Regions from separate parts of the Homo sapiens genome. Here region 2 is linked to region 1. Evidence: fine-mapped expression QTL. A gene starts in region 1. The other region holds a variant in brackets. All regions are shown on one strand. Distances are from middle to middle.

What was found.
Region 2: its variant is fine-mapped to the expression of DDX59 in vagina (GTEx, PIP 0.97).

Annotation. Positions count from the first base shown.
Region 1 is chr1:200,667,417-200,672,801 of GRCh38, reverse strand. It overlaps DDX59 (DEAD-box helicase 59), which reads left to right and starts at 2,895. Exons shown (of 8, transcript NM_001031725.6): 1 at 2,895-3,035. It overlaps DDX59-AS1 (DDX59 antisense RNA 1), which reads right to left and starts at 3,295. Exons shown (of 3, transcript NR_110787.1): 1 at 3,180-3,295. RefSeq lists a silencer at 2,742-3,481.
Region 2 is chr1:200,700,869-200,706,253 of GRCh38, reverse strand. No RefSeq gene overlaps it. Among named protein-coding and RNA genes, the nearest start is that of DDX59, 34 kb to the right of the region's middle. The variant C/TC (reference allele first, on the strand shown) is at 2,678.

The sequences.
Region 1 (5,385 bases):
GCTTGCAGTGAGCCGAGATCGCCCCACTGCACTCCAGCCTGGGCGACAGAGAGAGACTCCGTCTCAAAAAAAAAAAAAAAAAAAAACAGAGAAAAAAAAACACTTCATAAAGAAAATGAAAAGATCTTGGACTGAATCCTGGATTAGGGGAAAAAAATAGCTCTAAAACACCTTAATGGAACAACTAGTAAATTTTCAATAAGGACTGCATGTTAGCTACTCGTACTTCATCAATGTTAAACTACCTAAATTTGAGCCAGGCCCAGTGGCTCATACCTGTAATCCCAGCACTTTCGGAGGCCAAGGCAGGTGGATAGCTTGAGCCTAGCAGTTGGAGACCCCCGTGGGCAACATGGCAAAACCCCATCTCTAACAACAAAAAAATTCTCTCTAACAGGTGGGGTGTGCCTGTAGTCCTAGCTACTCTTACTTCATCAATGTTAAACTACCTAAATTTGAGCCAGGCCCAGTGGCTCATACCTGTAATCCCAGCACTTTCGGAGGCCAAGGCAAGTGGATAGCTTGAGCCTAGCAGTTGGAGACCACCGTGGGCAACATGGCAAAACCCCATCTCTAACAACAAAAAAATTCTCTCTAACAGGTGGGGTGTGCCTGTAGTCCTAGCTACTCGGGATGCTGAGGTGGGAGCCTCACTTGAGCCCGGGAGGTGGTTGCAATGAGCCGAGATCGCACCACTGCACTCCAGCCTGGGTAACAGAGTGAGACCTTGTCTCAAAAAACAAACAACCTCAACTGGAACATTTTTCTGTGAGTATAAAAGAGAATATCATTGTCTTTGGAGACACATGCTACAACTTACTCCTAAATGGTTCAGAAAAAAATATATATCTATAGTATACATATTTTATATATATAATCTCTCCTACACACTAATATAGCAAATATAGCAAACTGTGAACTTATGTGAAGGGTATACAGGAGTTCATTAATTCTGAAACTTTTTGATAAGGTTGATTTTTTCAAAATAAGTCAAAAAATTTTTTTATTTGAAAACACACTATAAACAGGGAGAAGATATCTGCAACACCTACAATTAACAAAAGAATGTTTCATTATATATACATATATACATTATATATACATTTATATATGTACACACACACACATCCTTAGAAGAGGAAGAGAAAACATGAATGAATAACATATTTCAAAGTGCTCAGCCTTATCAGTAATTACGGAATGCAAATTAAGACAAAAACATGGTATTTATTCTGGGTAGACTAGCAAAAAGTAAGAAGTGTGAAAATAACGAGGATTTAGAGAGAATTGTGGTCGGTACTGGTGGCAGTATAGATTGGTACAACCACTTTGAAAACATTTCTGCTTTATCTTTGAAAGCTGAACAGCCCCCATAGCCTCTGATGCCGCAGTGCTAATCCTAGGTTCAAATTAGAGTCCAGCGCATGCACAGAAGGTGAACAAGAATGCTCCTACTAGCCTTATTAGTAATTACTAGGGGCAGATTCAGGTTTTATGGGGTATGAGCTTATATAATTGGAAAAGAGGAGGCTTTTAAAGAAAAAGATTCAGAATGATGAATACAAATTAGGTTCAAAAGTGACTAATTTTTATAATGGCAAAAGAAATTACAACAATTAGAAATGTCACAAAACCCAGGAAAAGAGTTCTGTTATAGGTATGTGACCTACGAACTTGGGAAGTCTGATACATTTAGTCTGTGTGGTTCCCATCAATAAAGAAAATACTTAAAGTGCATTTATAATCCTATCCGCTACAGTATTGAATACATTCCTGACAGGAGAAAACTTCCTTTTGACTAGGCAGTAAGAAATAAATGTTCTGTTACTACACGTAACAACTTGGATGAACCAAAAAAACAAATGTTGAGTGATAAAAAGCGAATTCCAGGCTATATGTATTTTTATAAAGCTCAAAAAGAAGAAAAATACACCAATACACAGGAATGCATCCAAATATGATAAAACCACTAAAAATGGCAAAGAGGGACAAAACTGAAGATAGTGGTGGTGAGCTAAGAGGCCAGGAGTAGAATCCTGGAGATGCATAGATACATGCTAAATACTGATAACGTGGTGGAGTGATAGTTTCATTAGCATACTTTAAATTTTACATATTTGGTAAATATGCTCTTTTGAATGCATCGACTATTACACTGAAAATATTTTTAAATACTTAAGGCACCTGAATATAAGCTGGCTTCCCTCCTTCCTCTCCCGTGCTGTCTCCTCTCCCCCATCACTTCTCAACTACAAGCTGCTTGGGACACGTGGCTCCAGAGGTTGGCAAAACAGGGAAATGTCAGCCCACAAGGAACAAGAACCGTGACTTGTGTTATTTTCTTGTTGGTGTTGGGGTGGGGGGAGGGGTGCGGTGGTGCAGGAAATATTATCCAGCTTATCATATATGCCACATCAAGCTGACTCCGTTTAAATTTTGAGTGGCTCTACTAGCTAAAGCCAGAAAAGGGTTTTTGGGCCCAACGGGCAGAAGTGCCCCTCCCTTTTACACTCACACTTCCCACTTTCTAAGGGTGCCAGGCCCCCGCGCCGCCCTCCTGCTTCTTTCCGGACGGTCCAACTCTTTTCCACCAGTCCCAGCCCATTCGATTACGTAAATTCTTCCAAGAGGATTCCCAAACGTGCCCCTCCGTCCAGAACTCGCCCAGCCCGGACCAGTTCCGAGATTTACCACCAGCCCAGAGCTGGGCGGGGGCGTGGAAAACGCGAGGAGCCTTCCCGCCCCTCTCCTTCTCCCTCCCTCCCTCCCAAGCCACTGCCGGCTCCCAGCCGAGCTCCGCCCCCGCGGTGGCCCCGCCTCCCCGCCGCCCGGAAAGCGGGCTGCGGCCCCCTCCCAAAACCCGGGGAAGTGGATTCTACTCTACGCTCCGCTCCGCTCCGCTCCGCACCACCAACCCCGGGCCGCAGTCCTGACGAGCGGGTCAGGGCTTGTCGGGCGGAAGCCTGGCCTGGAGCCTGGAAGGGGGAGACGGCCCGAGCGGGAGCGGGAGCGGACGCGGCCTCAGTCCTGCGCGGGTGAGCGTGCCCCGGAAGCTTGGGCCCCTGGCCGCCCTGGTGCCCCTTCTCCGGGACCTGGGGCGCTAGGCCGCGGCGGCAGAACTGGTGCCCCTGCGCGGCCTTCCTCCCATCCTTACAGTTCCCCGTGTCCCAGGCCTCTACCCGGAACCGGAGCCCCGCCCGTCTCCTAGCAGCTCCGTGACGTGAAGCGCCTCGGGGTGCGGTGCCGCCGGGCGTGGGTGGGAGGCAACGCCCGAGGGGAGGGCCCGCCAGTGCACGGGGGTGCGGGGCGCGTTGGCGAGAATTGGAGGCCGCGCCGCCGCCAGCCGTCCGCCGTCCCGCCCAGCAGGAGCACGTTCCCTTTCGCCATTGGAAGACTGAGTTCCAAGCTTTTTCCTGCTCACCTAGAGCCGTCCCTGCCCCGCCCGCCACCCCCTGTACATTTTCGGAGATTTAGGATAGTAATTCTAGACCCTCGGTTGCATTTCTGTTGGAATTTTTCTGGAAGTTGGAATCTGGCAGTTTAAACAAAGAATTTTTTTAAGAAAAATATTTATTAGTATATTTGATAGTCCCCAGATTAGGTTAAAAGCCTTATTCCCAATAACTGTAATTTTGCAAAGACATGTTTTTGGTGTAAAAAGGTATAGATATGGGTTGATGAAAAGAATCAAACTCTGAAAAATATTTGAAGAGATTTATTTTGAGCCAGATTCAAGTGACCATGGCCAGTGACAGTCCTCAGGAGGTCCTGAGAACATGTGCCCAAGGAAATTGGGGTACAGCTTGGTTTTATCTATTTTAGGAAGGCGTGAGACATCAAATACATTTAAGAAATACATTGGTTTAGTTTAGAAAGGCGGGGCAACTCAATCGGTAAATGTAAACGTTATCTGGTTGAGGTTATCTAAAGACCTGGGATCCATAAAAAGGAATGTTCAGGCTAGAGATAAAGGATTGTGGAGACCAAGTTTTATTGTGCAGAGGAAGCTCTTAGATAGACTTTAGAGAGAGCAGGTTGTAAATTGTTTTATATTGGACTTAAAAGGGTGCCTGGCTCTTAGTTGATTATCTCCTGGATCTGGGAAGGAAGGAGGGAAAACAAGGGGAGATGGGAATTCTCACCAAATGCAGATTTTTCCTGCAAGAGACTTTGCAGGGGAGTTTTAAGGTACGACAAGGAAATATATTTTGGGGTAAAACATTTTTATTTTCTTCCTTGTTAGGCCAGAGTCAGATTGGAAAGTAAGTCACGATATACAGGGTTAAATAAAACCCATCTGATGAGAATTTATGGTTTGTAGGGCATGACTCTCCAGACCCCTTAGAAAGGAATTTGGGTAAGATAAAAAATTAGAGCTTAGTCCTCGTATGGTTGAGAGCTTGTGCTCTGGATCCACAGTGCCAGGGTTGTAACACTTAAGAATTGTGTGAGCTTGGACAAACCACTTAATTTCTTTTCTTTTTTTTTTTTTTTGAGACGGAGTCTTGCTCTGTTGCCCAGGCTGGAGTGCAGTGGCGCGATCTGGGCTCACTGCAAGCTCCGCTTCCCGGGTTCACGCCATTCTCCTGCCTCAGCCTCCCGAGTAGCTGGGACTACAGGCGCCTGCCGCCAACGCCCGGCTAATTTTTTTTGTTTTGTTTTGTTTTAATAGAGACGGGGTTTCACCGTGTTAGCCAGGATGGTCTTGATCTCCTGACCTCGTGATCCGCCCGCCTCGGCCTCCCAAAGTGCTAGGATTACAGGCGTGAGCCACTGCGCCCAGCCCAAACCACTTAATTTCTAAGTGGCTCAGTTTCTTCTGAGTGTATATAATGTGTTTTATACACACACACACGTTTTTTCATTATGCTATGTTATGTATATTACTATATTATTTTTTCATTATGCTATACTATGTATATTAGTCTTGTGTATATTACTCTATGTAATATACCTAGTATAGCATAATGAAAAAATATCTGTATATATATATATTAGGCAATGCTAACTGCTTTACATGGTTGTGAAGATTAGGTGAAGCACTGTGCTTGGCATATAATAAACACTAAGTGTTACTTATGAAAATAGCATTTTCTCTATGATTTGTGGCTTTGATTTTAAAGATTCTAATTGTGAAGTATTTCTCCTGTTTTCTTTTTTGATGCTATAATAGAAGGATTTACCCCAGAATTTCTATAATATCTGATACTTCAAAGTGCAAATAATCAGTAAACGGAAATAGACCATGTGTACAAGGCTATGTTGAGCAGTGTGCAGTGTTACAACACTGCTATGTGTGAGGAAGAGGACTCCATCTCTTCATCAGTGGAAGCTGGCGAATGGAAGAAAAGCTTGATATAAAGAGTGTCATGATGTCCTCACTAT
Region 2 (5,385 bases), 33 kb before region 1:
AAATATATTGTTGTTCCCATTTTTAAAACAGAGAAAGTGGAACATAGCATTTTCAGAAATCTGGGCCACAGATCATTGGTAAAACAGTAAGCCTGTAGTTTTGATTCCCAGTTCATTAGGAAGTTAATGTAAGGGTGGCCAGGCGCAGTGGCTCATGCCTGTAATCCCAGCACTTTGGGAGGCCGAGGCGGGTGGATCACGAGTCAGGGGTTCAAGACCAGCCTGATCAACATGGTGAAACGCTGTCTGTACTAAAAATATAAAAATTAGCCGGGCGTGGTGGTGGGCGCCTGTAATCCCAGCTACTCAGGAGGCTGAGGCAGGAGAATTGCTTGAACCTGTGAAGCGAAGTTTGCAGTGAGCTGAGATCACACCACTGCACTCCAACCTGGGCGACACAGCGAGACTCCATCTCAAAAAAAAAAAAAAAAAAAGAAAAAGGAAGTTAACATAAGGGCAATAAGTATTAGGGAGAGGTCCCCAGGAAGAAGGTGAGAAGGACTGCAGAAAAGAAAGAACTGAATTATCAGCAACATAAACACCAGCAACAAATATTTACCTAGAATCGACTGCATGCTAAGTCTGGGGATATAATGAGACAAATAATAAGAAGAATAACCCTGCTGTCAAGGAATTTGTAGTGACATGTAGGGTATAAACATTAAAATAAATGGTGACATAAATGAGAAAGACTAGATGTAGGGTGACCACATTTTTCAACTGAAAATTAGGTTTTGTGATCTGAGGGTGCTTACAGAGACAGAATATTTTATTTCATTGCCAATCAGCAATATGGAACTCAGAGGAAGGAGTGATTCTTAAGAATCTGGGCTGGCTTGTTAGACAATCTTGTCTGATGCCATGGGCAACTCTAGCTAGGCCCCCACCCTATGAGGGGAGAGTTAAGCCACTAGTCTCTACTTTTATCTTGTATAACACAATTTCCTGAAGACATTTTCTCCCCAAAATGCTCCTGTATTTCACTGTGGCAGCAAGACATCCAGCTTCCAGATGGAAAAATGAGATGCCAGTCTCCTCTCCTGTAGATAGCGCCGATCTCTAAAGTAGATCATTTGGATCCCTTCCAAGTGGAACTGCTTCTTTTGACTTGCTGGTGGGAGAGGAAGCATGTTAATAAGGCATTCTAATTATACGAATTCTCTTACTACCAAGAAGCTCATTAATAAATCTCCCCTTTTCTTACCAACTTGGAGATGGGTAATAGTAGTGATTATTAAAGATCAGGAGCCCAGTGTGGTGGCTCATGCCTGTAAGCCCAAACATTTGGGAGGCCAAGGTGGGAGGATCACTTGAAGTTGGGAGTTCAAAACCAACCTGGGCAACAAAGCAAGACCAGTCTCTGCAAAATGAATAAATAAAGAAACAAAAATTAGCCAGGCATGGTGGTGCGTGCCTGTAGTCCCAGCTACTTGGGAGGCTGAGGTGGGATGATCCACTGAGTCCAGAAGGTTGAGGCTGCAGTGAGCCGTGATGTGGCCACTGCACTCCAGCCTGGGTGACAAAGCGAGACCATGTCTCAAAAAACAAAAAACAAAGATCGGTTTGGTCACCTTTTAGTAAGTCTTGCATGAATGTATCTAACATCTCTCTTTTGAACACAGGGGCATTTGTCACCTGTCATCCACAGCTTTGAGGCTGGTGCTGAAATTTTCAGACAAGAAAATCTCTTTCCACATCCAATGACATGGGCAATGGGAGTCTGAGGAAGGGGAAGACATAAGGAAAGGGAATACACTTAAATTTTTCTGTTTTACAATTTGCCTAAGGCCCTGGTGGTCTTCCTACAGGCCTCAGCAAACTGTCTTAAATGATGAGTTTGGCTCTGCCTGGTGCTGTGGCTGCCTGAGTTAATACAGGTAGTGCCCACAGGCCTGAATAGTCGCTGCTGTGTGTTACAGGCAGCATCATATTCCCATCCACACTGAGTCAGTCTCTTTCTTGCTTTGCATTAGGGAGCATTGCTTTGCTTTATTTTTTCAGTCGCTATCTAATATTCTTTCAAGATGAACTTAAATACATATTTGTGCACCTAAATTTGAGTATTATTTTCTTTCTGTGTTATGTTTTTTGAGATGGAGTTTTGCTCTTGTTGCCCCAGGCTGGAGTGCAATGGTGCAATCTCGGCTCACTGCAACCTCCGCCTCCCAGGTTCAAGGGATTCTCCTACCTCCGGAGTAGCTGAGGTTACAGGCATGTGCCACCATGCTTGGCTAATTTTTGTATTATTAGTAGAAACGGGGTTTCACCATGTTGCCCAGGCTGGTCTTGAACTCCTGACCTCAGGTGATCCACCTGCCTCGACCTCCCAAAGTGCTGGGATTACAGACTTGAGCCACCATGCCCAGCCTAAAGTAATTTTTTAAGCCAATATGTGACTGTATACTGTCTCCAAAATGGACATTTAGCATATTCCTCTGATATGTGCACTCCATGCAGATTGTGGTAAACATTTGACGTATTGAAGGGAAAAACTTGGGCTTGGCTTAAAAAAATTCTCCATTTGATTTTTTGAACATTACAGCAGTAACCCATGCTTGCAATAACAAGTAAAATTACATGGTACAAACATATATAAAAGATGAAGCTAATGATCTCTTCTTCTATTTATGTGGTATAATTTGCATAATAAGACACAGGGTCTGACTGTATTTTTTTT[C/TC]CAGATGGATAGACAGTCCACCTATAGCTACATGTCTTCAATAACAGATGGCATTTATTTCTCTCATTTTTCATGCCCTTTGAAATATTTTAAAAGTTCAGGCCAGGCACGGTGGCTCATGCCTGTAATTCCAGCACTTTGGGAAAGTCCCGCTGAGGTGGAAGGATGGCTTGAGCTCAGGAGTTTGAGACCAGCCTGGGCAACAAGAGTGAGACCTTGTCTCAAAAAAATAAATAAAAATAAAAACTTAGAAGCTATCTATTTCTAATTGAAATTGTAATGAGATAATCATAGATTAACATGCAGTTATAAGTAAAAATACAGAGAGATGCCTTGTACCCTTTGCCCAATTTCCCCAGTGGTAACATTATGGAAAACTACAGGACGATATCAGAACCAGGATATTGACATTGTACAATCCACCAATTTTATTCAGGCTTTCCCAGTTTTCCTTACTTGTATTGATTTTTGTGTATGCCTGTGTGTGTGTGTGTGTGTATATTTAGTTCTGTATAATATTATTCCATGTGTATCCACCATCATAGTCGAGATACTGAAGTTTCACCACCCCAGTAATTTTTCATGTTGCTCGTTTATGACACCAACCTCCCTACCCCTGTCCTTAACCCCTGGCAACTGCTAAACTGTTCTTTATTTCTTAATTTTTTTCATTTCAGAAATGTCATATAAATGGACTTATATAGTACGTATCCTTTTGGGTTTGGCTTTTCTTCCCTCAGCATAATTCCCTGACGACTAATCCAAATTATTGTATCTATCAATAGTTTGTTCATTTTTATTACTGAGTATTAGTCCATAGTGTGTATACACCACAACTTTAAACATTTTTAAATTGACAAATAAAAAGTATATATTTGTATGTATAATATGATATTTTGAAATATCTATACATTGTGTAATGACTAAATTGAGCTACTTAACATATGTATTATCTCACAGACACATTTTTGGGGGGCAAGAACACTTAAAATCTATGCAGCAATTTTCAAGTATACAATATATATTATTAACTATAGTCACCGTGTTGTACAGTCTCTTGAAACCTTATCCCTCCTGTCTAAATGAACTTCTGTATATTTTGACCAACATCTCCCCAATCTCCCCCACCCCTTTAGCCCTGGAAACGACCATTCTACTCTCCACTTCAATGAGTTCAACTTTGTTAGATTCCACATGTAAGTGAGATCCTGTGGTATCCGTCTTTCTGTATCTGGCTCATTTCACTTAACCTAATGTCCTTCAGATTCATCTATGTTGTTGCAAATGACAGGATTTCCAACGTTTTGATGGGTGAACAGTATTCCACTCTGTGTATATACCACATTTTCTTTATCCATTCATCTATCAGTAAACACTTAGGTTGATCTTGGCTACTGTGAATAATGCTACAATGAACATATACCACAGTCTGTTTAATCATTCACCTGCTGAAAGACATGTGGGCTGCTTCCAGTTTTGGGGCCACTAGGAATAAAAATGCTATAAATATTTATGTGTAGGTTTTTGTGTTAATATAAATGTTCATGTCTCTGGGATAGATGCCCAAGAATGCAATGGCCGGGTGGTATGGTAAATTGCTTGTTTAGTTTTATAAGAAACTACCAAACTGTTTTCCAGAGTGGTTGTACCCTTTTACGTTCCCACCAGCAAAATATGAGTGGTCCAATTTCTCCATATCCTTGCCAGCATTTGGTGTTTTCACTATTTTACTATAATTCAATACTACTTTATTTTGTTGCTCGAATTGTTCCAGCTTTGATTAAATTTTATTTTATTTTATTTTATATTCATTTTATTTAATTTATTAAATTTTATTTGACCGGTTTGTAGTTAAATCCCATCGTGGTTTTAGCTTGCATTTCCCGATGGCTAATGATGTTGAGCATGTTTTCATGTGCTTAGTTGCTATACAGAGCCTCTTCAGTGAAATGTTCGTTCATGTCTTTGCACATTTTCTAACTGAGTTGCTTGGGTGTTTTACTGTTGTGTTCAAAAGGATCTTTATATATTCTAGATGCTAATCTTTTGTCGGATCTGTGATTTGAAAATATTTTCTCCCAATCTGTAGTTTATCTTTTCATCCTCTTCACATGGGCTTTGGCAGAGCAAAAGTTTTAAATTTTGATGAGGTCCAATTGATTAATTCTTCCTTTCATGATTCATGCTTTTGGTGTCAAGTATAAGAACTTTGTCTAGCCCTAAATTCCCTAGATTTTCTCCTACTTTTTTACAAAAAGGTTTATAGTTTTAAATTTTATGTTTAAGTCTGAAATCCATTTTGATGTAATTTTTGTATAAAGTGCAAGCTATTTTTATGAAGTATTCTCTTCAAAGTTCTTTAGATAGTTTATAATAGGGGTTATATTAAAAATGTTTAACAACCAGTGTTTTGTGCAGGAACCTACCAGTTGAATGGATGTTAGCCATTAACTCCAGTATACCTGTATTAGTGCACTTTGATGAATATCCACTCCCAGTTATAATTTCAGTTTTTATTCCCTCTTTAGACCAAAGATAAGCTAGCATGTGTTGATATGTTTCGTTATTTCCAAGTGGTTAATGTAATCCTACTTCATGGGTTGTTGTGAGAATTAAATAAATTGTTACATGTAAAGTGCTTAGGCACCTGCCATACAGAATGAACTAAAAAAAAAATGCTAGCAAATATATTGCTACATGTTTTTACT